Linked DNA regions of Homo sapiens. The protein of the gene in region 7 purifies or fractionates together with the protein of the main gene of each other region. This does not show direct contact. Each region holds a gene or a part of one and is shown on either strand. Other genes may lie near its edges.

Region 1 (3,698 bases), on a different chromosome or scaffold from region 7:
CCTGCAGATGGCTCCCAGGTACCCTCAGGATGCCATTCAAGCTCCTCAGGCTGGCCACTGGGCATCTGCTTCCTTCCTGCCTATCTGTGCACCTTGGACCCTTCCTTCCCTACCTTCCCCTGCACTCAGCCTGGAACAAGCCCTTCCCCCACCACCGCCCCTTCCGTGAGAGAATGGTTCAGGTCTCACATACGTGTCTCTTCCTCTGGAAGCCTTTCTAGATGGGCCCAGAAGACCCTGAGACCTCAGGTCCTTGTTTACCTCCTCATGATTCATTGCACAAATATTTGCACACCTGCTTGGTGCCAGGCACTGGTCACAGAACTTTCTAGTCTATTATGATTGCCTCATGACTTGATTATAACTGTTTATACTTGACCTTATTATAAAACCTTGAGGGAAGGGACCCTGTCCTTTTGGCTTAAGAATCTAAATCTGACAACCAGCCCATAGTTGGTGCTCATGAAAGTTGGCAGAATGAATGAATTTTCCATGGGCATAAGCTTCTTTCACCAGCACCAGTTAGAATAAGTATACGCCCAGACGGTTAAAGTCCTAGAATTGTTAAGGTCTGAAATAAGGGTTCTGGAAGGGTAATTTTGAAGTCTCTTCTTTTGACACATCCACCCTCTCCCCCGGGGCCCCTCTCCTTACAGGGCATGTACAATGCCATCACCCGGCAGGTGGAAACGGAGCTCTTCCCCTGCCTCAGGCACTTTGGACTGAGGTTCTATGCCTTCAACCCTCTGGCTGGTACGTGGAGCATTCCTGGCCCTGTCTCAGCCTATTCCCGACCCACAGATGCCCAGCCCAGGACCTGGGAAGCAAGGAGGGTTTGACAAACTTTGACCTCTGAGGTCAAAGACGTAAAGGCTGCATCTTCAGCCCTCCTGGGTCCCTGCCCCTCCCCTAGACCAGAGCCCTGAGGGATGTGGCAGCTTCTGGGGCACTCTAGGCCCCGGGGCTGATTGCTGCTTTCCCTCAGGGGGCCTGCTGACCGGCAAGTACAAGTATGAGGACAAGAATGGGAAACAGCCCGTGGGCCGCTTCTTTGGGAATACCTGGGCAGAGATGTACAGGAATCGGTAAGCTGTGGGTGCTTGGTGTGGATGGCTGGGGTGGGGTCAGCTTTATGTGGAATGAAGTCCTGGGCTGCTCCTGGGGTAAGGCCTTTCCTCGCTGCTGCACCTACTCCCCTGAATTTCTTCGGGAATTTCCAAACCCTCCATCGGTTTTCTTGTTGTCTTGGGACCTCCAGGAGGAAAGGAGACTCCCTGGACCTCGGGGTCTTGAAGTCGTTGCTCTTTCCTGAGCAATCACCTGCTAGGAAGGAAAGAAGGAGCTCTGGAGGGAGGTCCAGGAGGCCTGGGGCTGAGTCCTGACCCATCTTAGCGGCCTTTGTGTCCCTAAGGAAAATAAGAGCAGGCTGATGAGTCCTCAGGAATAAAGATTTGTTGAGGTCTCTGCTGAGGGGCCCAGCATCCTGAGTGGTTCTCTTGCCCAGCAAAGTGGGAGACCCATGGCTAGAGAGAACACCTGCCCCTCAGGGCTGCAGGGTGTGGGGTGGGACAGTGGCCCTGGTTGGCTCTTTGGTTGTGGCTCCCAATGTGGCCCTGACACCTGTGCCACCGTCCCCCCTTCCCAGCTACTGGAAGGAGCACCACTTTGAGGGCATTGCCCTGGTGGAGAAGGCCCTGCAGGCCGCGTATGGCGCCAGCGCCCCCAGCATGACCTCGGCCACCCTCCGGTGGATGTACCACCACTCACAGCTGCAGGTAACCAGTGACCCTGTGCGCTCAGCTTCTTCCCTTCCAGGGGAACCAGCAATATCTTTAGATGAAGGCTGAAACATTTGTTTATCGATTCCTCTGAAATTTCTCTTTCTTTCAACTCTCACAAACATTCTTCCCACTGGTCTTTTTCTATGTTTTTTTTTTGGGGGGACAGAGTCTCACTCTGTCACCCAGGCTGGAGTGCAGTGGCATGATCTCGGGTCACTGCAACTTCTGCCTCTTGGGCCGAAGCAACTCTCTTGTCTCAGCCTCCCCAGTAGCTGGGATTACAGGCGTGCGCCACCATGCCCAGCTAATTGTTTGTATTTGTAGTAGAGACAGGGTTTCACCATGTTGCCCAGGCTGGTCTCAAATTCCTGAACTCAGACAATTCGCCCTCCTCAGCCTCTGAAAGTGCTGGGATTATAGGCGTGAGCCCCTGCGCTCGGCCTTCTCATTGGTCTTTGATGGTATCTGAGTGCCAGGCTTTGTAATGAGAGCTTCATTGCAGGGATTTCATTATTCCTTCAGCTTTATGAAATGACTATCCCAGTGTTATTGACGAGGAAACTGAGTTTCACCCAGCTATGAAAGGGGCAGACATTTTAACACAGGTTTAACTGTAAAGCCCACTAGTCTCATCCTTTTGGTGGGAGCTGGAGTTTCCCTCTCTCAGTGCCTCATGTCTTCCTCACTTATATCCAACTCCAGCCTTAGATGTTGCAATAGTGTCTGGCATATATACAGTAGGTGCTCAATAAATGGGAGCTAAGTGCTCTACATAATTTTTCACACCCATAACCATGTTGAAAATAGAAAAGAGGATTGAATCTCAGAGAGGTTTAATAACTTAGCCGCGTTTACACAGCTGCTGGGGGGCAGAACTGGGCTGTGAATGTAGGTCTGTCTGGAAGCGTCGTGTGGCAGTAGGGGAAGGGATACAGGTTTTGCGTCACATGGGTACAGCTATCCAAGGCACCTTAAGTTCTTTCTGGACATATGGGATACAAGAGATCCCAAATCTCAGCAGGGAGGTGGCTGGGACGGCTGTGAGTAGAGTCGCTGTGCAGCAGAAGAGGGTTGAAGTCTGGCCGTCTCCCTTGCAGGGTGCCCACGGGGACGCGGTCATCCTGGGCATGTCCAGCCTGGAGCAGCTGGAGCAGAACTTGGCAGCGGCAGAGGAAGGGCCCCTGGAGCCGGCTGTCGTGGACGCCTTTAATCAAGCCTGGCATTTGGTTACTCACGAATGTCCCAACTACTTCCGCTAGGCCCATCGTTTCTCAGGCTGCCCAAGGCTCTTCTGTAACATCTTTTGTTACTCACATTTTCTTTAATTTAGAACTGCCTCAGTAAATTCTTAGGGATGGAAGTATTTGGACAAAAACCTAATAGAAGAGTCACCACCAAATGAAGAATAAAACTCCCAGGGTGCTGTGTGTTAGTCTGTTTGCGTTGCTATAAAAGAATACCTGAGACTGGGTCATTTATAAAGAAAAGAGGTTTATTTGGCTCACCACTCTGCAGTCTGTACAAGGGGGTGTGGTGCCGGCATCTGCTCTTGGTGAGGGCCTCAGGAAGCTTACAGTCATGGCAGAGGGGGAAGCGGCGCCAGCGTGTCACATGGTGAGAGAGGGAGCAAGAGACAGACAGGGGAGGAAATTCCAGGCTCTTTTAAACAACCAGATCCTGTGTGAACTCATAGAGCTGGAACTCACTCATTACTATACAGATGGCACCAAGCCATTCATGTGGGATTTGCCCCCATACCCTAACCCCTCCCACCAGGCTCACCTCTAACATTGGGGATCACATTGCAACATGAGATTTGGAGGGGACAAAATACCCTGATGATATCATTGTACCAGTACCACCCCCCCGCAAATGTCATGTTCTTCTCACATTGCAAAGTACAGTCATCCCTTCCCA
Region 2 (4,281 bases), on a different chromosome or scaffold from region 7:
AAAGCTGGGTAGTTAGGACACTGTTGTTCCTTGTCTTTCTTTCTCTCTCTCGTCCTGGCCTCAAGCAACCCTCCTGCCTTGGCCTCCCTGTACTATTTTTTCTTTTTGAGACAGGGTCTCATAGTGTCACCCAGGTTGGAGTACAGTGGCGCAATCATAGCTCACTGCATCCTTAACCTCCTGGGCTCAAGTGATCATCCCACCTCAGCCTCCCAAGTAGCTAGAGCTACAGGTGTATGCCACCACACCTGGCTAATTTTTGTATTTTTATATTTTTAGAGACAGGGTCTTCCTATGTTGCCCAGGCTGGTCTCGAACTCCTGGGTTCAAGCGAACCTCCCGCCTCAGCCTTGCAACATGCTGGGATTACAAGCGTGAGCCACCGCGCCTGGCCTATTATTCTTTGAACATAATCCATCTACCATAGCAAATGTTTTCTATGTGCACCATATCTCAAGTTTAAAAACGAATAAATGGTTAAAATGGTCAATTTTATGTTGTGCAAATTTTATCTCATTAAATAAAATTGAATGGAAACTCCCTCTGAAACAAAACCACAGTGAATTAATCCCATAATTACAACTGTGATAAGTGGGATTTGGAGGGAGTCAGATACAGCTTGGCAGGGGCTGCAGTGTTCTCCTAGAGAAACTGACGACAGAAAAATGATCTTTTCACAAAACACAAAGCTATTACTCCCCTGTCTCAAACTGTCCCCTGACCCCCGTGGATTCTCTCTGTCCTCAGGACTAAGATGCAGGCGCCCCTTTCCCCCCCGCCCCGCACTGCTCTGAAGACCCTCCAGCCTCAGCCCAGCCACTCCCTCCTCTCAAACAGCCCTTGCGGTTTCCTCCCCATGGAGTGACCCTCTCACGGCCACTCATGTGCTAACTCTTCCTCCCCTGTGCAGGAGGCGGGACCTGGACACCCGGGCCCCAAGGGATGGTTCTGAGGGAACCAGGAGCTGGAGAGCTGACAGGTGGGTCACAAGGGCCCTGGAGTCTCTCTGCTGAGGGCAGTGAGGAGCCATGGAGGGGCAGATCTGGGGGCCAGCATGTCCAAAAGCCTAGGACAGGCATGTGGAGCACCCAGGAACTCCCCTCTGGCCTGGTAGGAGTGTGGGTCACAACAACTCCTAGGGACAGCCGAGCAGCTGCATTTCTCAAAATGATGGATACACAAACCCTCTGACCTCAAAAGCTGCTCCTAAGCATTTATCCTACAGACATTCATGTGAAACGACACAGGATTATTCATTACAGGACTCTTCCCCAGAGCAAAGGAGCAGAAGTTAAGTATCAATGTCCACAATGAGGGTACTGGTTACGTAAGTCATGCCATAACTATACTCTGTTATTCCTCGCAGCCAGAAAAAATTACGAGGAAGCTCTTTAAGTAACAATACGAAAACATGTTTGAGAGAAGTGAAAAAGAAGCAGAACAGTGTGTATGGAATGCTCCTTTTTGTGCCAAAGAAAAAAGGGAGAGGAAAATGTGTCTGTGTTGCCTATATCTATATCTGCTATCTCTGGCAAACAAGCAAGAAACGGGAGACTCAGGCGGGTGAACCAGGCACCGGGGAAGTCTGTAGGAGCCTTTTCACTGGGTCCTATTCTGTTTCTTCTGAATTCTGGACAATGTGCAACAAGTTGTCTAGTCAATACTATATACAATAAAGGGTTGGCATAAAGCCAAAACCCGGCAAAACTGATCTATGGCGTCAGAAGCCAGGACAGTGACTGCCCTTGGACCACAGTGATGGAAACGACGACGGCGGGAGATCCTGGGATGTGGCGCATGTTTGACTTTTTTCTTTGGATACTTGTTTACACCAGGGTGCTCCCTTTATAAATATTTATTTAAGCTGTGTATTTGCAAACCGTTCGATTTTCTGCGTTTGTGGTATTATTCCAGAAAAAGTGTTCAAAATGCAAAATACAAAGATGGCTTCAGGCCCCCGCCGTGCGGTTGAACTGGAGGCAAAAGGCCAGAGAGCAGGAGGTCGGCGCTGGGGCCCAGTGGGACAGGGGAGAGTCAGGAAGGGGCAGCTGGGACGGTGGGGAAAGTCGGGGAGAAAGGCCCCCAGTTTCTGGTCGAGCGAGGGGCATGATCTGAAGATTCATAGGGGATCCCGGGGAGGGGAACTGGTTTTTGGGAGATGAAAAATTGGGGTGAGGGTGGGTGTGTGAGAGAGAGAGATGTGAAGGGGAGGTCTGGGCTGGAGAGGGTTGGGCGTGTCCTGCGGAACGAGGAGAGATTCAGCCTGGGTGGAGGGTACCCAAGGCCAAAGGGGGCGTGGCTGGAGGTGGGCGGCAACAGGGGGCGGGGTAGGGCCGTTGATTTCCCCACCCGGTCTCGGAAACCCGGCCTTGGAGCCCGGACTTCCTGGCTGTGTGACCTTGGGCAAGTTTCTCTTTGTCTTAGCCTCAGTTTTCTCGTCGGAGAAATGGGGATTAAACCTGCCCACCCCCCAGCGCTGTTACAGAGGCGGCAGGCGCGACCCGGGGACGCTTCCAATCTCTGGCCAGCCAATTCTGGCGGGGCCAGGTGGAGTCCTCCTTCTGGTCCTGTGACCTTGGCCCGGGACGCCCAGGCAGAGCCTCAGTTTCCCCATCTGCTAGGCGGTAAGGTCGGTCTCCAAATAGCGCCAGCAGCGAGAGAGGACTTACCCGGAAGGTGCCGGGTTCGAGCCCGGAACGGCCCCTCTGCAGGTGAGGCGGGGGCACCCTCACCTCTCGGCTCTCGGACGGCCACCGCTGAGGCCTCTTGCGGGCTTCCCAGGGCTGGTTACCGTTTCGTTAGGGCTGGACACGTGGCCCACCCCCTGCACCGTCCGTTTTCCGCCCACTTGGGCCCAGCCGTCCAATCGACACTCATCATGCTCTGCCTCGCCGCTCTCTCCGGCCAATCCGCATGTGCCACTGCCTCTGCCCGCAATCGGCGCTCACCAACTCACCCCGCCCCCTGCCTCTCAACCAATCCGCATATGCAGCTGCTTTGCTCCCGCCCCAGGGGGGGCGGTGCCGGCAAGGCTGTCAGTCTCAAGAAAATGATTAGCTCGCAAAGGCGCCGTGGGGGCGGGGCAGCAGGTCGTTCTGCCAATGGAGAGCCGTAGAGGGCGTGAGTGGCGGCCGACGGGGCGGAGTCGCGCGGTGGTCTCCGAAGGCTCAGACTCTGGCTGGAGAGAGGGCGTCTCGGCCGGCCCCATTGCACAGAGCAGACCGCCGAGGCCGGGAGAGAGAGAGAGGGGTCTTACCTAGAGTAGAGGCATGTCTGCGGTTCGAAACCTGGCCCTCTCTCAAGAAACGGAGGCTTACAAAGATACCCAAGCACTTTCCAGGAAGGGGCTGGCTGAGGGAGCGATCAAGTGAGGAATTTGACGCCCCCCTGTCCTTTGCGCTCTGTGCTGCCTCAGTTTCCCCATCTGTACAGCACCTGCCTCCTCGGGTGGTGTTTAGAATAATTTAGACTCTGTGCTTGGAAATGGAGGTTGAGAGAAAGAGAGAATTTCCTATCTGTCTTGGAATAAATCCAAACTCCTCCCAATTCATGGTCGGCCTTCCTGGTCCGTGCAGACCTCGCCTCTCACCACTCCCCCTGCTCACTCCGCTCCAGCCACAGGGGTCTCCTCTTGCTCTTCCCTCAATGTCCCACCGCAGGGCCTTTGCACGTGTGCTGCCTCAGCCTGGAATCCTAGGACTCCCCATGGCCCAACCTTCCAGGCTTTCAAAGCCTTTCCTGACCACCTGGTGTCAGGTAGCCCTTCCATCAGGTCGCTGTTTTTAATTTTTTTGAAACATCAAAAAAAAGAAAAAAATTGCTCTATCACCCAGGCTGGAGTACCATGGTACGATCACAGCTTGCTGCAGCCTCAACCTCCCGGGCTCAAGCGATCCTCCCACCTCAGCCTCCTGAGTAGCTGGGACCACAGGTATGCGCCACCACACCTGACTAATTTTTTAATTTTTTTGTAAAGATGGAGGTCTCACTCTGTTGCCCAGGCTGGTTTTGAACTCCTGGGCTCAAGTGATCCGCCTGCCTTGGCCTCCCAGAGTGCTGCGATTACAGGTGTGAGCCGCCGCACCCGGCCTTGTGTTTTATTTTCTTTTCAGCACTAACTCCAATCTGAATTGGAAATGAATCTTGCTTTTTGAAAAATGCATGGATATACTCTTTTATTGTCTGTTCCCCGCCAAAACACACACATGCACACAGAACAGGGAGCTCCCTGAGGCAGGGGTCCCGTCTGCCTCGTTCACAGCTGAATCCTCAAGTCCTAGA
Region 3 (3,500 bases), on a different chromosome or scaffold from region 7:
CCAGGCTCCAGCCCCTGCCCACCCATCTACCTTTTCACAGCTGCAACCTGTTCTGCAGTGTAGCCTTTGGTGCTCTCTCCTCCAGCTTCACCGTTGGCCGAGGGGGCATCGGTCCCACCTGCTTTCCTGTGGGTGGCATGGGTTGTGTCTGTGGGTGGGGGTTGGTCACCGGCAGTCTGTGGTTTCTGGTTGAGGGACTCAATCAGGGCTGTGCAAGGCAAGGAAACCATTCAGAGCTCCTGCTCAAGCAGGCTGCGTGCCTCGCCGAGCGGCCCGCTGCTTCCCACTCACTTCCCCTCCCAGCAAAGCCACCAGCTCCTGCCCTGATTAGGCCTGTGGGTGCTGGGGGGACAGTCATCTGCTCTCTTGAAAGCCATAGTCCTTAAGAGTAGGCAGGACAGGCCGGACGTGGTGGTTCACACCTGTAATCCCAGCATTTTGGGAGGCTGAGGCAGGCAGATCACCTGAGGTCAGGAGTTTGAGACCAGCCTGGCCAATGTGGTGAAATCCCGTCTGTACTAAAAATTAAAAAATTAGCCAGATGTGGTGGCGGGCGCCTGTAATTCCAGCTACTAGGGAGGCAGAGGTTGCAGTGAGCCAAGATGGTGCCACTGCAGTCCAGCCTGGGTGACAGAGTGAGACCCTGTCTCAAAAAAAAAAAAAAAAAAAAAATCCGGGCACAGTGGCTCACGCCTGTAATCCCAGCACTTTGGGAGGCTGAGGCGGGCGGATCACCTGAGATCAGGAGTTTGTGACCAGCCCGGCCAACATGGTGAAACTCCATCTCTACTAAAAATACAAAAAAAAAAACCCCAAAAGACATTTAGCTGGAGATAGTGGTGGGCGCCTGTAATCCCAGCTACTCGAGAGACTTGAGAGGCTGAGGCATGAGAATTGCTTGAACCCAGGAGGTGGAGATTAGCAAGATTGTGCCACTGCACTCCAGCCTGGGCGACAGAGCAAGGATCTGTCTCAAAAAAAAAAAAAAAAAAAAAGTAGGCAGGATAGAGGTCTTTTTCGTTTTACATGAACAAAATTAATTTTGTTAATAAAAATTGACATAAAATTCTACATAATTCATGGATAAATCTGTAGTAATTGCTTTATTTTTCAGATAGTATACTTATACATATATCTCTTTTCTTAATAAATTTAGGCAGAATTCTGATATTCTGATAGTCTTCCAAAAGCACACTTGGTTTTATTAATAAACCCTATAGTACTTTATTTAGAGTTATTTTTTTTTATTTGTTTGTTTATTTGAGATAGAGTCTCACTCTGTTGCCCAGGCTGGAGTGCAGTGGTGCGATCTCAGCTCACTACAACCTCTACCTCCCAGGTTCAAGTGATTCTCATGCCTCAGCCTCCTGAGTAGCTGGTACTACAGGCACGTGCCACCACGCCTGGCTAATTTTTTTTTTTTTGACACGGAGTCTTGCTCTGTTGCCCAGGCTGGAGTGCAGTGGCATGATCTTAGCTCACTGCAACCTCCGCCTCCTGGGTTCAAGCAATTCTCCCGCCTCAGCCTCCCTAGTAGCTGGGATTACAGGCGCCCAGCACCATGCCCAGCTAATTTTTGTATTTTAGTAGAGATGGGATATCAACACGTTGGCCAGACTGGTCTTGAACTCCTGACCTCAAGCAATCCACCCATCTCGGCCTCCCGAAGTGCTGGGATTACAGGTGTGAGCCACCGTGCCCGGCCTAATTTTTGTATTTTTAGTAGAGATGGGGTTTCACCATGTTGGCCAGGCTGGTCTCGAACTCCTGACCTCAAGTGATCTGCCCACCTCGGGTTCCCAAAGTGCTGGGATTACAGGCATGAGCCACCGTGCCTTGCTAGAGTTCATTTAATACTACTTTAATTGCTATTTCTTTCAGTGTATTTGGTTTTACTCTGCTTTTTGCTTTTATGAATCCAACTTATGAATCCATTTTTTTCTACTGAACTCATTCAAATCTGCAAATATGTTTGCATTGCACCACATTTTGAATAAGTAAAATATTCAGTCCACTGCACTACTCCCTATTTTTACCATTGGTTTTTTTTTTTTTTCTTTTTTGAGACGGAGTCTCACTCTGTTGCCCAGGCTGGAGTGCAATGGCATGATCTCAGCTCACTGCAACCTCTGCCTCCCGGTTTCAAGCGATTCTCCCGCCTCAGCCTCCTAAGTAGCTGGAATTACAGGTGCACACCACCACGCCGGCTAATTGTATTTTTAATAGAGATGAGGTTTCACCATGTTGGCCAGGCTGGTTTCGAACTCCTGACCTCAAGTGATCCGCCTGCCTTGGCCTCCCAAAGTGCTGGGATTACAGGCATGAGCCACTGTGCCCAGTCAACCCTTCAGATTTTTAAGATCTCAAAGTAGTGAGTTTAACAGACTTGGCATGTTGAGTGCCAAGCTGGGAAAAGTACCCTGCAAAGGGGACCCCGCTTAGCAGGACCCTCTGTTTCAGGTGGGATCAGTCAGGAAGCCTTCCTGGAGGCCTTTGCTTAGCTGTAAAGAGGAATGGGGGAAATGAGTTTGCCCAAGGGGGACACAGATGGTAGGAGACCAAAAGAAGTATCTGCTGTGCTCACAACTTGCTATTTTTCACATTTTTCTAATGCAAGTGGTTGGCCATGCCAAATGTCCTCTTCAATGTCTGGAGTCTATACAGGACATTAACTATCACCCTCGGCAGCATCATGGCTATTGAAAACCAAGCCCGGCTGGGCGCTGTGGCTCACGCCTGTAATCCCAACACTTTGGGAGGCCGAGGCGGGCGAATCACAAGGTCAGGAGTTCAAGACCAGCCTGGCCAACATGGTGAAACCCCGTCTCTACTAAAATACAAAAATTAGCCGAACATGGTGGTGGGCGCTTGTAATCCCAGCTACTAGGGAGGCTGAGGCAGCAGGATGGCTTGAATCTGGGAGGCGGAGGTTGCAATGAGCCGAAATCATGCCATTGCACTCCAGCCTGGGCAATAGAATGAGACTCTGTCTCAGAAAAACAAAAACAAAAACAACCAAGCCCACCAGGCATGGTGGCTCACACCTGTAATCCCAGCACTCTGGGAGGCTGAGGCGGGCAGATCGCCTGAGGTCAGGAGTTTGAGACCAGCCTGGCCAGCATGGTGAAACCCCGTCTCTACTAAAAATACAAAAATTAGCCGGCGTGGTGGCAGGCGCCTGTAATCCCAGCTACTCGGGAGGCTGAGGCACAGAATCGCTTGAACCCGGGAGGCAGAGGTTGCAGTGAACTGAGATTGTGCCACTGCACTCCAGCCTGGGCAACAGAGCAAGACTCCATCTCAAAAAAACAAAAGCAAGCAAAAACAAGCCTGTGGTTCCTGCAGATTAAATGAGGAAGGGCCCAAGTCTCTGGCAGCAGGTCCCTGTGTCCATTTATTCCAGGCACGAAACCTCAGTCAGGCCTGGGCCCCAGCGCCCTGGGTAGTAAAATCCTAAAGCCTCTGACAAGCTGACCAGCTGGGAAAACAGGCATCTGGAT
Region 4 (3,500 bases), on a different chromosome or scaffold from region 7:
CAATTCTAATTTTGGGGATGTGAAGCACAGCAGCAAGAACTTCAGAGAACTATAACAATACTAAAGTCTTTACCAGCATGCCATTTATCCATCTTCTGGCGATGATAGAGTCCAGTCCACATACAATAATATGAAATTCTACAAAAAAAAAAAAAAGCAACTTTAGTTTTTAAATATGTAGTTGCATGATGATCTTTCAATGTAGATTCATCAACTGCAACAAATGTACCACTCTGGTGCAAGATGTTGATTAGGAAGGTAGTGTGTTTGTGGGAACAGGAAGCTCTATGAGAACCCAAGTTTTCAAAAATTTTCTGTTCAATTTTGTTGTGAACATAAAACTGCCCTAAAAAATAAAGTTTACTAATTAAAAAAAAAAAGCACTTGCAGAAAACAATTTGCACGTTCTAAGAAACCAACAAAAAAACCACAAGCACTTTTTACTGTAATCCCACATACGTTCTCAGAGCTCCAATTCCTTGAGTGAACTCTCATTCAGGTAAGCATAGAAACTTGTAGCTGGTCATGTCAGCTAAAACTAGCATTCTCTTTTCAGTCTATCAGCAACATTACTGAAAAGCCAACAGTGAGAGAGGAAAGCAAGTGAAGAAATAGCCTTGAAATAGCTAGCAATATTTGAATAGCTACCAACTAAAAAATTCTAAGAATCTAGTGAGCATTAATTTCAAGTAAAAAACTTACGTCGATAGAAAGTGTCGTTAAAATCTTGAATCTTGTTGAAATGTCTGAATACAAGTAAAGGAACTTAAGCAGCTAAGTTTTAATTTCTAAAATGAATTTGACAATGCCATAAGGAACACACTCTGCATATATTTACAACAAGAAATAAGTAATCAATGTTCACATCAGTGGAATTCAAGGAATCTGACTAAATGAACACAACTCTCCTTTCTGACAAAACTTTTCTGCCATTCCTCCCCTAACTACTTACTTTTTCTCATTCCTGAACCCCTATATCATTATATTTATGCCCTTGGTAGGAGGTATACTTTCTACTTTGCTTTGGTTTTTATATAAAACCATAAGCCCCAGGAAAGCAGAATGTGTGTCCTCAATCATCAGCATCAAGAAGAGATGCAATAAATGTTTTAGTGAAGGAAAGATGCACATTATAGTTCCTATTTTGCTAGGTGATTTTAAGAGTTACTGCAAAGCTCATTTTTTTAACATACAGAAAATTTCAACAGCTTTTTCAGTTGGTAAAGATTTTACTGTTTTTATTTTTTGTGGGGAGGAGAAAAAGTACGAATTTTTTCTACCTTTCTCATTTAACTCAGTTTTCAAGTTACCCTACCAAATCCTATTACCAGTCTTCCCATCCCTGGAGGCTAAAAAGGAAACTCCATTCAAAACTGATTGTGGGTGAGTCAATATAGCACTTAATGTTTTAATAGCACATGTGTGCAAAAACTTGTTTTAATTTTTCTAATGAATGGAGCAATTGTTTAATAATTTATAAATTATGCAACTTCTCTAAAGTTAAGATAAATAGTCCACTATAAATTTTTTAAAAGCAATACAGAGAAAAAAGGGACAATACATAGAAAAAAGGGACAATACATGCTTCCTCTAGATTTTTAATTCTTGCCTACAAATAAAGCTATGAACAATAATTTCAATTCTAGCCCTCAGTCATTCAGACCTCTATTCCCTTTGAATGCTAGGCAAGCAGGAGAACGAAGCTACAGCTAGAAAGAGGTCAAAAAAGAAACAAAGCAAACAGTGGAGGAATGGCAATCAGGGAACCAAGAGCCAGACTAAGAAATCTAATCTGGATTTCTAGAAAATACCCAAAGTTTCCCAGACCCACATAATGGGGATAGACAAACTGAGTGCCCCCCACTAACCAACCCACCCCCACCAACTCTTCCTTTTTCCCTACAGGGGCCTGTATTTGCATTTTTAAGCTCTTTATTTTGAAATAATATAGATTCGCAGTAAGTTGCACAGATAGTATAGGTAGGTACCATGCACCTTTCCCAGTTACATCTTACTATAGTACAGTACCAAAACCATGAACAGAACATTGGTACAATGTGTGTTTATAATTCTGTCATTTAAACACACATAGATTTGTGTAACCACCACCCCAGGCAACACACATAACTATTCGACCACAATAAAGATCTCTCTGCAGCCTCCACATCCTGGGCTTAACTGATCTTCCTGCCTCAGCCTCCCACATAGCTGGGACTACAGGCATGTGCCACCATGCCCGGGTAATTTTTCTAGTTTTTACAGAAATAGGGTCTCATTTGTTGCCTAGGCTGTTCTCAAACAACCAGGCTCAAGTGATCTTCCCGCCTCAGCCTCCCAAAGTGCTGGAATTACAGGCCTGAACCACCACACCCAGCCATCTCTATAATTCTGTAATTTCAAGAGTATTATATAAACAGAATCATGCAGTATATGACCTTTTGAGACTGGCTTTTTTTTTTTAGTCTAATAGTTGTGTAACAGTATCGCTCATGGTGGTCTTAGTTTGATGTGAAACATCTTTTCATGTGCTTTTCGTCATCCTTTTTAGTAAAATATCTCTTCCTATCTTTTGTCTATTTTCTAATTGAATTTTTTTTTGTTTTACTGTTGAGTTTTTAGAGTTCATTATATACTCTAGATATGAGTCCTCCATCAGATGCTTTACAAGTATTTTCTCCAGTCTGTGGCTTTTCTTCATCCGTTTAAGAGGGTCTTTCACACAGCAAGTTTTTAATTTTGATGAAGTTCAGTGTATCAATTTTTTCCTTTTATGGCTCATGCTTTTACAAAAAATTATTTTAATTTTTTAGAGATGATGTCTCACTACATTGCCCAGGCTGGAATGCAGTGGCTATTCACAGTATGACCACAGCCTACTATAGCTTCAAACTCCTAGTCTCAAGCAATCCTCCCACCTTAGCCTCCCAAGCAGCCAGGACTCTGTAGTGGTATGATAAAAGCTCACTGCTTCCTCAGTGATCTGCACCACCATACCCCACCTTTTACAGGTCTTGCTTTTGACGTGGCCTAAGCACTCTCCACCAAACCCTAAAGTTCTATCGTTTTATGGTTTTTTGTGTTTTTTTTTGTTTTTTTGAGATGGAGCCTTGCTCTGTCGCCCAGGCTGGGGTGCAGTAGCGCAATTTCAGCTCACTGCAACCTCAGCCTCCTAGGGTCAAGCGATTCTCCCACCTCAGCCTCCTGAGTAGCTGGGAGCCACTGTGCCCGGCTAATTTTTGTATTCTTAGTAGAGACGGGGTTTCACCATGTTGGCCAGGCTGGTCTCGAACTCCTGACCTCAAGTGATCCACCCACCTCGGCCTCCCAAAGTGCTGGGATTACAGGCATGAGCCACCACGCCTGGCTCATTTTATATTTTATATTTACACCTATAATCCATTTTGAGTTAATTTTGTATGTTTAGGTCAAAATTCATCTTTTAACTATGGATATGAAATTGCTCCAGTACGATTTGTTGAAGACTATGCTTCTTCCATTGG
Region 5 (3,500 bases), on a different chromosome or scaffold from region 7:
CCTGGAGTCAGACAGGCCTGGTTTTGAGCTGGACTCCATCACTTACTAGTTCTATTACCTTAGGTAATAGGAAGCCTCGGCTTCCTTTTTTTGTAAAATGGGGATGTTAACATTGTCTCATAGGGTCATTGTGGGGGATCAAATAAGACGATATATACAAAGCTCTCAGCACTGTGCCCTGCATATCAATGCTGTAATTACTCCAGGATCCAGAGGAAGAACCTATACCCCTCGCGCTCTCTGGGTTTCTGCACGCTCTGCCCAGTGGCCTGGCACCTCAGCTTTAGAGGGCAAGGTAGAGCCAACCATTAATCAGATAGTGCTGGGACCGGCTGGGGTTTTCTGTGGCATCCCGTATCTTCCCATCAGAAGCTGGAAAGGGAATGAGGGGACTGCGAGAGTAGTGAGGGGTCCTAGATACTGACCTTCCTTCTGTGTTAGATGTTTGAACCCACAAGATGTTGGGGTTGGCCAATGCTCCCAGTACAACCCAGGTGGTAGGAATGACACTCTGAGTCTGTAGGTGCTGGCGGCCAGGCTGCCCCCGGGCACACAGCACCAGAGGAAGGAGATGGGCACTTAATACAAGGTTTCCAGTGCAGGATACCTTGGCACCTGGCCTGCCCATCGGGGGCAGAGCAGGCAATGAGAGCTGCTGCTCTATGCTGGAGTGGTTGAGTTCTGAGTCTACAGCCAGAGGACCTCGGCTGTGTGCTCGATGGCCTTAGCTAGGAAGTCACTTCATCTTGCTGTCTCAGTGTCATCCTCTGACAAGCAGGGATAATAATCCAAACACCAAGAGCTGCTGAGGATTACGTAAGGCACAATGCCCAAGGCAGGCCTGGCAGTGTCACACACACAGGACACGCTCAACAGATGGCTGCTCTGAGCTGTAAGCCCACAGTGACTTCAGATTCCTCATCCTCTGGGCTCCAGTACCTTCTAAAGGCTGCTGCCAAAGGGAGGATACCCACTGTGGAGAGCACCGACGCAAGCTCCACCAGAATCCCTCGCCCCGGTGGACTTGTCCTATTCTGGGGGACACTGACTGCCCACTGTGGGAGGGCCCCAAAGGGTGTCAGCCTCAGCCTCGTGGGACTGAAACGGAACAACCTCAAAGTCGTATCTGATATTGACTCGCAGGCGTAACAGACCCTCATCCAGCCTCTCTTTGAACACCTCCAGGGACAGGAGGTCAGCTCCTCTGTGGAGCGGCTCTGATTGTTAAGAGCTCTTTTCTCCCAAGCAGAAATCTGTCTTCCTGTCATTCCCACCCACTGGGCCTGAATGGTCCACGGGGACCATGCCAACAAATGCACCCCCTCTTCCCCAGGATGGCCCTTCAGATTTGGAAGAAAGGATCCCCTAAGTCTTCTCTTCCACAGGTTAAACTGCCTCTGTCCCCACCAAGTCCACCAGGCTCCAAGACGGCTCTTCGGAGAGCCCACCCCAGGCCTCAGTTGAAAAGGGAAAAGAAAGAGCTGGCAAGGGGGGAGTAACAGAGGAGAGGGGGTGGAGGGAACATCAGAGGGGCCATTTACAAGTGAATGGGGGTAAGAATGGAGCAGTTTGTGGGCTAAACTGGCCTCAGAAGGAGGTTTACAGATGTGCGAGGGGACCTCCTCATTGTTTAATTAAGCAGAAAGTGGATCTTTTCAAAAGCAATTTTGCACAGGGACTGGGAGGGGTGTGGGGAGGAGGGAGGTGGAGAGGGGATCAGCAAACAGGCCCTGAGAGCAGAGAAAGGAACAGCTGGCCCCAGAGAGGCTGTGAAATGCATGCTAAGCAGTTTAAAGCGCCCAGGAGCTCCTGCAGCTCCTGCCCTCCCTCACCAGCCACCCTTTAACACAAGTGGAGCAGGCAGAGGGGGCACAAAGGCAGGACAGGGGAAGACAGGCAGGGAAAGGTGAGGCGGCCATGTCTACACTTGGGGCCTGGGCAGGGGGCCTTGGGTCAAAGGGATGCTTGAATCACAGAGGCCAACTCCCAGCAGCCGCAATACCCTAAGCTGGTGGGTGCCTGCATGGCCGTTTCAGCGAGATGGCTGTTAAGACATCCCTTCTCTCACACAACTTCTTACTGGGTCAGCACACTCTGCTTCACCGAATTGTATATACTTGGATCTTGAAGAAACTTTTCTTATAGATGTCAAAGAGACAACCAGCTCAATAACATACAGAGCGAGCCCAACCTCCCATCTTACAGATAGGGAAGAAAGAGTCTGGCAGGAATAAGTGATGTGCAACTGCGCGTGCCAGGCTTCCTCTCTCGCAGTCTCACTCCCTCAGGCCTTGCTCATCATTTCTCCCAAATTGGCTGGGTTGGAAGCTCTCCCCTGGCCTAGGAGCCACGAGTTCCCTCATTTGTGAGGCTTGTCACATTCTGAAATCTTACGGCTGCTATTATTTCTGCTGGAACCTCCAAGACTCGCTTGGCCAAGTGGCAGCCCCTAGGCTGGGAAGTCTGCCAGATGACATATCTGGGCATGGACTTGGGGGAAGGGTAAGACTCTCCTAGCAGCACCAGGCCCCTGACCCCCAGCTGGGCTCACATGTGCCAGGGTGAGGCCTGGCAGCTGCTAACCAGCTCTGTTGGTGACCTAGGTCACCAACCTAGGTTACCATGGGTCTGCTGTGTGACCCATGCCTCTGGGCACAACAGGAACCAGGTGTAGGGACTCACAGCAAAGGAGCCAAAGACTAAGTGGGCCATTGTGCCTTCCCTCCCACTCCCCTCCTTTCTTCCCAGAGTGGGGATAGGCCCCTGCCTGTTCCCTGAACAGTGGCTGGAAGATGAAGGATAAAAAAATCTGAGTCCCAGCCCAGCCTCCCTACTTGGGTAACTCTGGGCAGGCCTCAGGTCCCTCCCTCCTTCTCTTTCTCTTTTAGGGGTCTCTTATCTCTTGGGGTCATCTGAAAGTTGAAATAAGTAGTTGTTGAACTCATGAATAAATAAATGAAGGAAAGCGTAAAAACTGGAAAATGTAAGATGTTAGAGTAATTCAGGGAGCCTCTTGGGATAGACGGTGATGGGTTAGTGGCAAAGCGCCAGGACTCTGAAATTCAGTGGCCTGAAAGCTAGTTCTGAATCCCAACCCTGCTATTTAAATAACTCTATGACTTGGGGTGAGACCCCTGACTTCTCTAAATTTTGGTTTCTACCTTTTATTTGTTTTGTTTTTTGTTTTTGAGACGGAGTCTTGCTCTGCGCCCAGGCTGGAGTGCAGTGGCACGATCTCGGCTCACTATACAACCTCCACCTCCAGGGTTCAAGCGATTCTCCTGCCTCAACCTGGGATTACAGGTGCCCACCACCATGCCCAGCTATTTTTGTATTTTTAGTAGAGACAGGGTTTCACCATGTTGGCCTGGCTGGTCTCTAACTCCAGACCTCAGGTGATCCGCCTACCTTGGCCTCCCAAAGTGCTGGGATTACAGGAGTGAGCCACTGCACCTGGCCTTGGTATGTTACCTCCTTAAAGAGACCTCTGCTGACCACCT
Region 6 (3,500 bases), on a different chromosome or scaffold from region 7:
ATTGCAGGAAGTGGCTGACTCCACAGAGTCAATCCACTTGCTGGAGGGGGTCCTGGTGAAAGAGTCTGAAAGACCACAAGAACTAAAAGAAGGAGAAAGAAAGGTCAACCACAAAGTGGCATTCGCCATGGTATTAACCAATTATTCATAGCACAGCCTGGGAAAGTGGAATGAACCTGCACGATGACAGCTGACATGCTGAGAACTTGATGCCCTGGGGGAGACTTGGCTGGGACAATGCAGCTGGAGTCCCTCCTCATGCCCAAAACCAAAACAGGCCACCCTCCTCTCTGCATCAAGGCGTGATTCCAGCAGCCAGGGCTATTCAAGTATTTCCTTCTGCAAAGAGTTGTCATCACTCCGCGCACATTTAAGCAGATCGCAAGCAGCTATTGACTCTGTTTTTCGCTGGTACCTCTGGACTGTCAGTTAATAACCTGGAGTTCATCTTGCACAAATTGTAGAATTGGTTTATGTGAAGCAGAGAAATGATCTCGAGCTAGATGTCAGCACCATATCCCCCGGCAAGTTGCTGCTCCTTTGATTTCAGAGATGTACCATGTAAGTCTTTAACAAAGTCCATAAGACCAGTCAGAAAAGATGAAGCAGTTAGGGGACCCAGAAGAAAAACTAAGTAGGCACAAAGGTGAGTTAGGAAACTGGTCAAATCCTAGCAAGCCCCAGGCTTCCATCGCAACCAAAGAAGTTAAGGAGGTGACTTTGTGACATCACTTTTTTCTTCTTTAGACAGAGTCTCCCTCTGTTGCCCAGGCTGGGGTGCAGTGGCACAATCCCACCTCACTGAACCTCCACCTCCTGGGTTCAAGCAATTCTCCTGCCTCAGCCTCCCAAGTAGCTGCGATTACAGTTGTGTGCCACCACGCCTGACTAATGTTTGTATTTTTAATATAGACGGGGTTTCACCAGGTTGGCTAGGCTGGTCTCCAACTCCTGACCTCAGGTGATCCTCCTACCTTGCCCTCCCAAAGTGCTGGGATTACAGGCATGAGCCACTGCGCCTGGCCAAGGTGACTTCACTTCTGCTGCACAAGCAATAAACCACCTGAAAAGAGGGTCTGTTTCCTAAGGATGCTATGCACAAAGATGTTCATTGCAGCATTATTTACAACAATGAAATATGGGAAGCAATGTAAAATCCAGCAATAGGAAAATGGTTAAGAAAATTATTCTACATCAATATGTCATTTTACACCCATTAAAAACAATATCAGACAGGTGCAGTGGCTCATGCCTGTAATCCCAGCACTTTGGGAGGCTGAGGTGGAATGATCACTTGCACCTAGGAGTTTGAGACCCACCTAGGCAACATGGTGAATCCCTGTCTCTACAAAAATAAAAAATTAAAAAAAAAATACAAAAATTAGTTGGGTGTGGTGGCACACACCTGTAATCCCAGCTACTCGGGAGGCTGAGCTGGGAGGATCATTTGAGCCCAGGAGGCTGAGGCTGCAGTGAACCGTGATTGCACCACTGCATTGCAGCCTGGGTGACAGAGTGAGACTCTGTCTCAAAACAAACAAACAAAAAACAAAAACCAACAATGTCTATGGAGAGGCTAAAATAATATTCATAAAATGTGATGTTTGGCATAAAGATAACAAAGCAGGATGGTAGCTGCTTGCATATATTGTGGGTCATAACTATGTAAAATATAAATGGAAAGAACACACATAGAAGTTTTAACAGTGGTGAGATCATGAGTGATTATTTTGCCTTTCCCTTTTTAAAGAATAGCCCACATTTTCCAAAATTAGCTTATATTATTTTTATAATAATATAAACCAGAGGTTAGCAAATTTCTTTCTGCAAAGGGTCATAGAGTAAATATTTTTGGCTTTGCAAGCCATACAGATTATGTTACAACTACTCGATTCTGCTGCTGCATGGAGAAAGCAACCATGCACAATACATTGTAAACAAATAGGCATGGCTGTGTTCCAATAAAACTTTAAATAAAAACAAGCAGGAGGTTGGATCTGTCCCATGGGCTATAGTTTGCTGATTCCATAAACCTCAATGAGACTTTTGAAAGTTATTCCATGTTCAGTGACATGGAATAATTGCCCTTTCATTAAGTACTAGCTATCACCCGGGGAAAGTTTTCTTCCTAATCACAGGGAGGTTATGGGTCCTTAGGAAACGGTCCAGCCCCTGGAAATTGCATTTGACAGGCAGGGTCAGAGACACAAGGCATAGCTGCTCGTGAGGAACAGCATTGCCTCTCTCTCCATCTCTCTGTCTGAGCTGTCACGCCCTTTCTCTTTGCCTAAGTTATTCCCTATGTCTCTCTGACCCCCTTGTACATCTCCCTCTGCCCCCAACTCCATCAGTTCCAGGAAGAGAAGGAAAGAAGATAGGGAACCTGAGTGGATTGTAGGGCCAGGGCTGGGAAGCTTGGGAAAGGGGGAAGATGTCTCTGTCTCACTTACATTGGATTCGAGGTCACCGGATGCAGGATGACCTGGGGCGCCCGGGTCGGCGTCTCCGGCACCGGCACCACATCTGAAAACCAGAGATTGAACACTCAGAAAAAAAATGTGAAGTCCACAACCCCCGCAAAGGCCTGATTCCTGGGCGACATGGCAGCCAATTTTTCACCAGATCTTGGATCTCTGCCCTTGGCCAATCTCCTTTCTCCTTTCCTGGACCACCTGGACTCTACCTGCTCAGCTGGACCAGGGTTCTGGATGACATCCTCAACAAAATTCCTCATTGTTGAATAGGGGGCTGCCAGAACCCTCAAATATCTAGCCTGAAGCATTCATTGGTCATCTCTGAATCTTTCTTTCTCCTGGGTTCCCTTTGGGATGATAAAGCCCCTTGGTTTCACATCCTCTCAGTACCCAGCTCAGGACCCTATGACCATCTCTTTCCTGCCACATGGCTCTAGACCCCTCCTCACCCTCGCCCAGTGTTCTACAGCACTCCACCCTCTCAGGCCTTTCCACGGTGCCTTGGGACCTCCTTGGGTCCCACTGTGCCCACTCTTTCTTCTCCACTTCCATGTTCAGCCATTATCCTGGAGTGTGGTGACTCCACTACCCTCTTTGATCTTAGGCACCCCCACAACATCTGCCTCCATTCATCCCAGAAACTCCTGCAATGCAGCGGGGCTTGTTCAGAAGGGGCTGCTTCCAGCTCACATGAAACTCACCTGGGAAGATGAACTGCTGCTTGTATTTGTAGTAGTGGGATGCTTGCAAAAGAAAGAAAACATCAAAGTGAGTGTCCCCAGGGAGACATCGCTTCAGGGACCAGATTGAGCTCTTACAGCCACCACATGGTCATTCTCTGCCCACCTTCAAGAGTTTCCATACTTCTGCAGACATCCCTGCAGACAAGGGACTGCAAACATGTGTAAAGAAACCAGAACTCTAAACATCCATGCCGACCCTCCCATCTGACATCTCACACTCCCTAAAATCAGACTGCTCCAACTCAAACAGACATTCTGACTACAATACCATTTTTGTGAAATG
Region 7 (3,500 bases):
TGTATGTTATTCGGGTGATGGATACCCTAAAAGATCTGGCTTCACTGCTACCATCCATGCATGTAGCAAAATTACACTTGTACCCCCATACATTTATACAAACAAATAAAAATAAAGTTGTCACTTTAAAACACATGCAAGAATCCTGGGAGAAAGATACACTAAGATCCTAGCATTTACTTAATATTAAGGTAACTGGGCTATTTCATCATCTCATTCATTAAAGATCTCTAAATAACACACTCCAATGCCATCTACTCCACATTTTCTGTTCATAAATGAACATTCACTCTAATAAAGTGGCAGAAACAGAAAATTAGGACTAGAAAACTCATAAGTACACAATATTACCACATTCCTAATTTTAAAAAGCACTTTTCTTAAACCTTTTACTGCTTTAGGAGTAGCATATTTCTGATCTTTACAACGTATCTTATGTTAAGCAAGTTAAGAATCTCCATTTTGCAACAGATGAATAAAATGTTCAAAGCAACAAAAATTGAAGAACTAGAAACAGATCCCAATCCCTCTAACTCCCTAGTCCATAATGTTGAAGTCACATTTGACCCAACAAGCAATTTCTAAAAGCAGGAAGGCAACATCTAAAGCCTTATATTCAATCAACCAATCTTTAAATACATCAATCAATATCTAAGCATCTCAAACATTCTAAATTCTGATTTGTAAATTAAATCAATGATGTACTAGTAATCAAAAACAAAGTAAATGTGCATTCTGCAATTATAAAACAGATAAATCTCAGCCAAATCTGGCTGTAACTTACAAGCTCCTTAAAAGCCTCAGTAAGGAAGAATTTTGTCTTTTTTTCTATCAGAAGTGATGTCTGTGGAGGTTTCTTATACCATTAGACACTTGTGCTTGAGGAAATTAACACTGAATACTTGAAGGAGAAACTGGCACAGAAACTGGAAGCAGAAAACCAATTTTGACACAATTACAAATATTCAGAGAAGAAAGCTCTGAACTACAGCAGTGAGGTTAAAAACAGAAAAATTCAAGGACATGTCAAAGTCAAACCAATATAGCTGAATGAGACACAAAAGAGTGGTATCAGAGAAGCCCCAGGATTCTCTCGATTAGTGACTAGACTGCAATATATGAACAGAAAAGGAAATATGGCACAGTACGACACATCCACTCTGAAGACTGTGCAAGACATCTAGGTGGAGATGACCAGACAGTGGCAGAAATATGAGCACGGATCTCGTTGGAAGGCTTCACCTAATCCATATTTTGGACTAGCCCACACCATGGGGTCACCAACATTAAGCAGCAAAAGAAAAACCAATCTAGTTTCTCACCACTGAGTACGTAAAAATTAAAAAGAGAAACCCATCAAGGACACTAAAAAGAGGTAATCAGAAAACTAAGAAGAAAAAGAAGGAAGAAAGCAGCATCTTAGAAGCAAGGGAGAATATTTTGAGGAGGAAAGTCATCAACAGCCAATTCTGCAGTATTTCAGAGAATGAAAACAGATCGCTGGGCTTGGCAATTGGGCCTCTGAACATTTCAACAGATGGGAGAAATGGGACAGAAGTCAACCATAATGGACTGGGGACCCATGGGGAATTGAAGAGGTAAAGACAGAAAACATAAGATGGTTAACAATGAAGAAAAAAGGGAAGATTGAATGGTACTTCATGCAAGTTGTCTTATGATTGGGGAGATGTAACTGTTCTAGATATTTAAGAACTTGAAGGAATAAAGAGGAAGAGCCAAAACATTAAAAAAAAATTAAAACATACACTGAGTACTTACTATTGCTAGACACTTCTAAATCACAACAATTCTATGAGACAGCTACTATCACTATTTGCATCTTAAAGATGCATAGCAAAATTAAATAATTTGCCCAGGGTCACAGAGTAAACAATAGAGGAATTGGGATTTGAACTCTGGCAATTTGGCTCCAGAGGAGATTTTTTTTTTTTTTCCAGATGGACGTTCGCTCTTGTCATCCAGGCTGGAGTGCAATGGCACCATCTCGGCTCACTGCAACCTCTGCCTCCTGGGTTCAAGCAATTCCAGAGGAGATAATCTTAATCACTCATAAAATTAACAATATCAGAGATCTAAAGAAATGGGTAAGATCCACAGCACAGATGGGAGAGTTAGCCTAAGAAAAAGATACACATTTTTTTCTCTGAAACAGGGAGGAAGGGAAAATGACAGTTTTGAGGTGGAAGGAAGATACACTGCCAAAAATTGTGTCTGAAAGATTCTATTTTCTCTGTGAAGTATAAGGCAGGAGGAGTAGGATGGGTTTGAGGGCACTCCTCCAATCTACTACTACTAACAATTCAGAACAGCTATGACGGGGAGTTCCAAAAGGAACTACCTAAGGACAAGAAAAAGGGCTCTGGGGACCTCCAAAAGGTCAGCTGAGGTCAAGGGGTGAGGGTGGTAGGACAATGCAGTGGAAAGCAGAGGCTGATGGCAGTGTGGAAGGAAAGGACGAACTCTGCATTCTTCCTCAGAGAGTTTACCCAAGCTCAAGCTTTCAATCATCTAAGCCAAAACTTAGTTCAGACTTCTGCTCTTCTGAGCTTCTAGTCTTTACATTCAACTTCCTATCTCACATCTCCAGTTGTGTGTCTCAAAGGCATGTGATGCACAACATGTCTAAAATAAAAAACAAGCTGGTCCATTTCTAACCAGTCTTCCTTTCTCAGTAGCTATCACCACCCTCCTAGTCACATAAGGCTCCAAGCCTAAGAGATGTTCTTAGCAACTCCTCCATTATCTTACTCTTTGGATTTTCATCTTTCTCTGATACATTCATCTCATTTCACCCTCAGTCCAAGCTTCCATTGCCTCTTACTTGGACTGCAGTAACTCCTCAAGTGGCTGCAGAGGAGGGAGATTAGGATATGTATACATCATACTGTTTTCTCTTCTTGGCTGAACAGGAAAGACTGCATTCCCCAGCCTTCCTGGCAAGCTGAGTTGGCTGTATGACTGAGTTCTGAACAGCCATTTGAGTTCTGAACAGCCAAGCTGGGCCCAGTTATGTAAACTACTTCCAGTCCTGGCCCTTTAAAAGTGATCTTTAAATACACTAAATACAGCTTTTTAGATGTGAATCCTACCACAATAAAATGATTTTTAAAACATCAAAAATTAAATAAAAGTTAAATAAAAGTGATCTTAAAGCTCTGTTTTCTCCCACCAAGATGACCTTGGTAAGCATACTTCATGATAGGAGAAGGCTGCCCAACCCTTCTGGACTCTGCGTGACAGAGACAAATCTTTACTGTGTTAAGTCACTGAGATTTTGAATTTAATTTGTTATTGCAGTTCTAATACAACAAGACTGCCCATACCAACTGCCCATCACCTTTACCCTCCAATTCATCCTCTACATAAACATGAATCTGATCACCATACTTAGAACAGTCCAGTGGCTTTCCATTGATCTGAAGGTAAAAAATAGCTATTTATTTATTTATTTATTTATTTATTTATTTATTTTTGAGATA

Evidence for each region.
Region 1: the proteins of DSTN (region 7) and AKR7A3 purify together in Homo sapiens (co-immunoprecipitation; one large-scale study listed by IntAct). This does not show direct contact.
Region 2: the proteins of DSTN (region 7) and ISOC2 fractionate together in Homo sapiens (co-fractionation; one large-scale study listed by BioGRID). This does not show direct contact.
Region 3: the proteins of DSTN (region 7) and DNAJB12 fractionate together in Homo sapiens (co-fractionation; one large-scale study listed by BioGRID). This does not show direct contact.
Region 4: the proteins of DSTN (region 7) and UBA3 fractionate together in Homo sapiens (co-fractionation; one large-scale study listed by BioGRID). This does not show direct contact.
Region 5: the proteins of DSTN (region 7) and URM1 fractionate together in Homo sapiens (co-fractionation; one large-scale study listed by BioGRID). This does not show direct contact.
Region 6: the proteins of DSTN (region 7) and KSR2 purify together in Homo sapiens (co-immunoprecipitation; one large-scale study listed by IntAct). This does not show direct contact.

The regions. Positions count from the first base shown.
Region 1 is NC_000001.11:19,282,073-19,285,770, reverse strand, and holds the end of AKR7A3 (aldo-keto reductase family 7 member A3), read left to right. Parts: intron 1-656; coding exon 657-753; intron 754-985; coding exon 986-1,085; intron 1,086-1,645; coding exon 1,646-1,775; intron 1,776-2,878; coding exon 2,879-3,040; 3' UTR 3,041-3,198; downstream 3,199-3,698. UniProt on the Homo sapiens protein: Catalyzes the NADPH-dependent reduction of various carbonyl-containing compounds, including aldehydes, ketones, and toxic products from cellular metabolism or environmental exposure.
Region 2 is NC_000019.10:55,458,843-55,463,123, forward strand, and holds the start of ISOC2 (isochorismatase domain-containing protein 2), read right to left. Parts: upstream 2,801-4,281; 5' UTR 2,670-2,800; intron 1-2,669.
Region 3 is NC_000010.11:72,344,920-72,348,419, forward strand, and holds part of DNAJB12 (dnaJ homolog subfamily B member 12), read right to left. Parts: intron 209-3,500; coding exon 31-208; intron 1-30. UniProt on the Homo sapiens protein: Acts as a co-chaperone with HSPA8/Hsc70; required to promote protein folding and trafficking, prevent aggregation of client proteins, and promote unfolded proteins to endoplasmic reticulum-associated degradation (ERAD) pathway.
Region 4 is NC_000003.12:69,063,366-69,066,865, forward strand, and holds part of UBA3 (NEDD8-activating enzyme E1 catalytic subunit), read right to left. Parts: intron 747-3,500; coding exon 703-746; intron 139-702; coding exon 74-138; intron 1-73. UniProt on the Homo sapiens protein: Catalytic subunit of the dimeric UBA3-NAE1 E1 enzyme. E1 activates NEDD8 by first adenylating its C-terminal glycine residue with ATP, thereafter linking this residue to the side chain of the catalytic cysteine, yielding a NEDD8-UBA3 thioester and free AMP.
Region 5 is NC_000009.12:128,381,374-128,384,873, reverse strand, and holds part of URM1 (ubiquitin-related modifier 1), read right to left. Parts: intron 1-3,500. UniProt on the Homo sapiens protein: Acts as a sulfur carrier required for 2-thiolation of mcm(5)S(2)U at tRNA wobble positions of cytosolic tRNA(Lys), tRNA(Glu) and tRNA(Gln). Serves as sulfur donor in tRNA 2-thiolation reaction by being thiocarboxylated (-COSH) at its C-terminus by MOCS3.
Region 6 is NC_000012.12:117,528,491-117,531,990, forward strand, and holds part of KSR2 (kinase suppressor of Ras 2), read right to left. Parts: intron 3,218-3,500; coding exon 3,176-3,217; intron 2,524-3,175; coding exon 2,451-2,523; intron 568-2,450; coding exon of another isoform or gene 507-567; exon of another isoform or gene 56-506; intron 1-55. UniProt on the Homo sapiens protein: Location-regulated scaffold connecting MEK to RAF. Has very low protein kinase activity and can phosphorylate MAP2K1 at several Ser and Thr residues with very low efficiency (in vitro).
Region 7 is NC_000020.11:17,594,075-17,597,574, reverse strand, and holds part of DSTN (destrin), read right to left. Parts: intron 1-3,500. UniProt on the Homo sapiens protein: Actin-depolymerizing protein. Severs actin filaments (F-actin) and binds to actin monomers (G-actin). Acts in a pH-independent manner.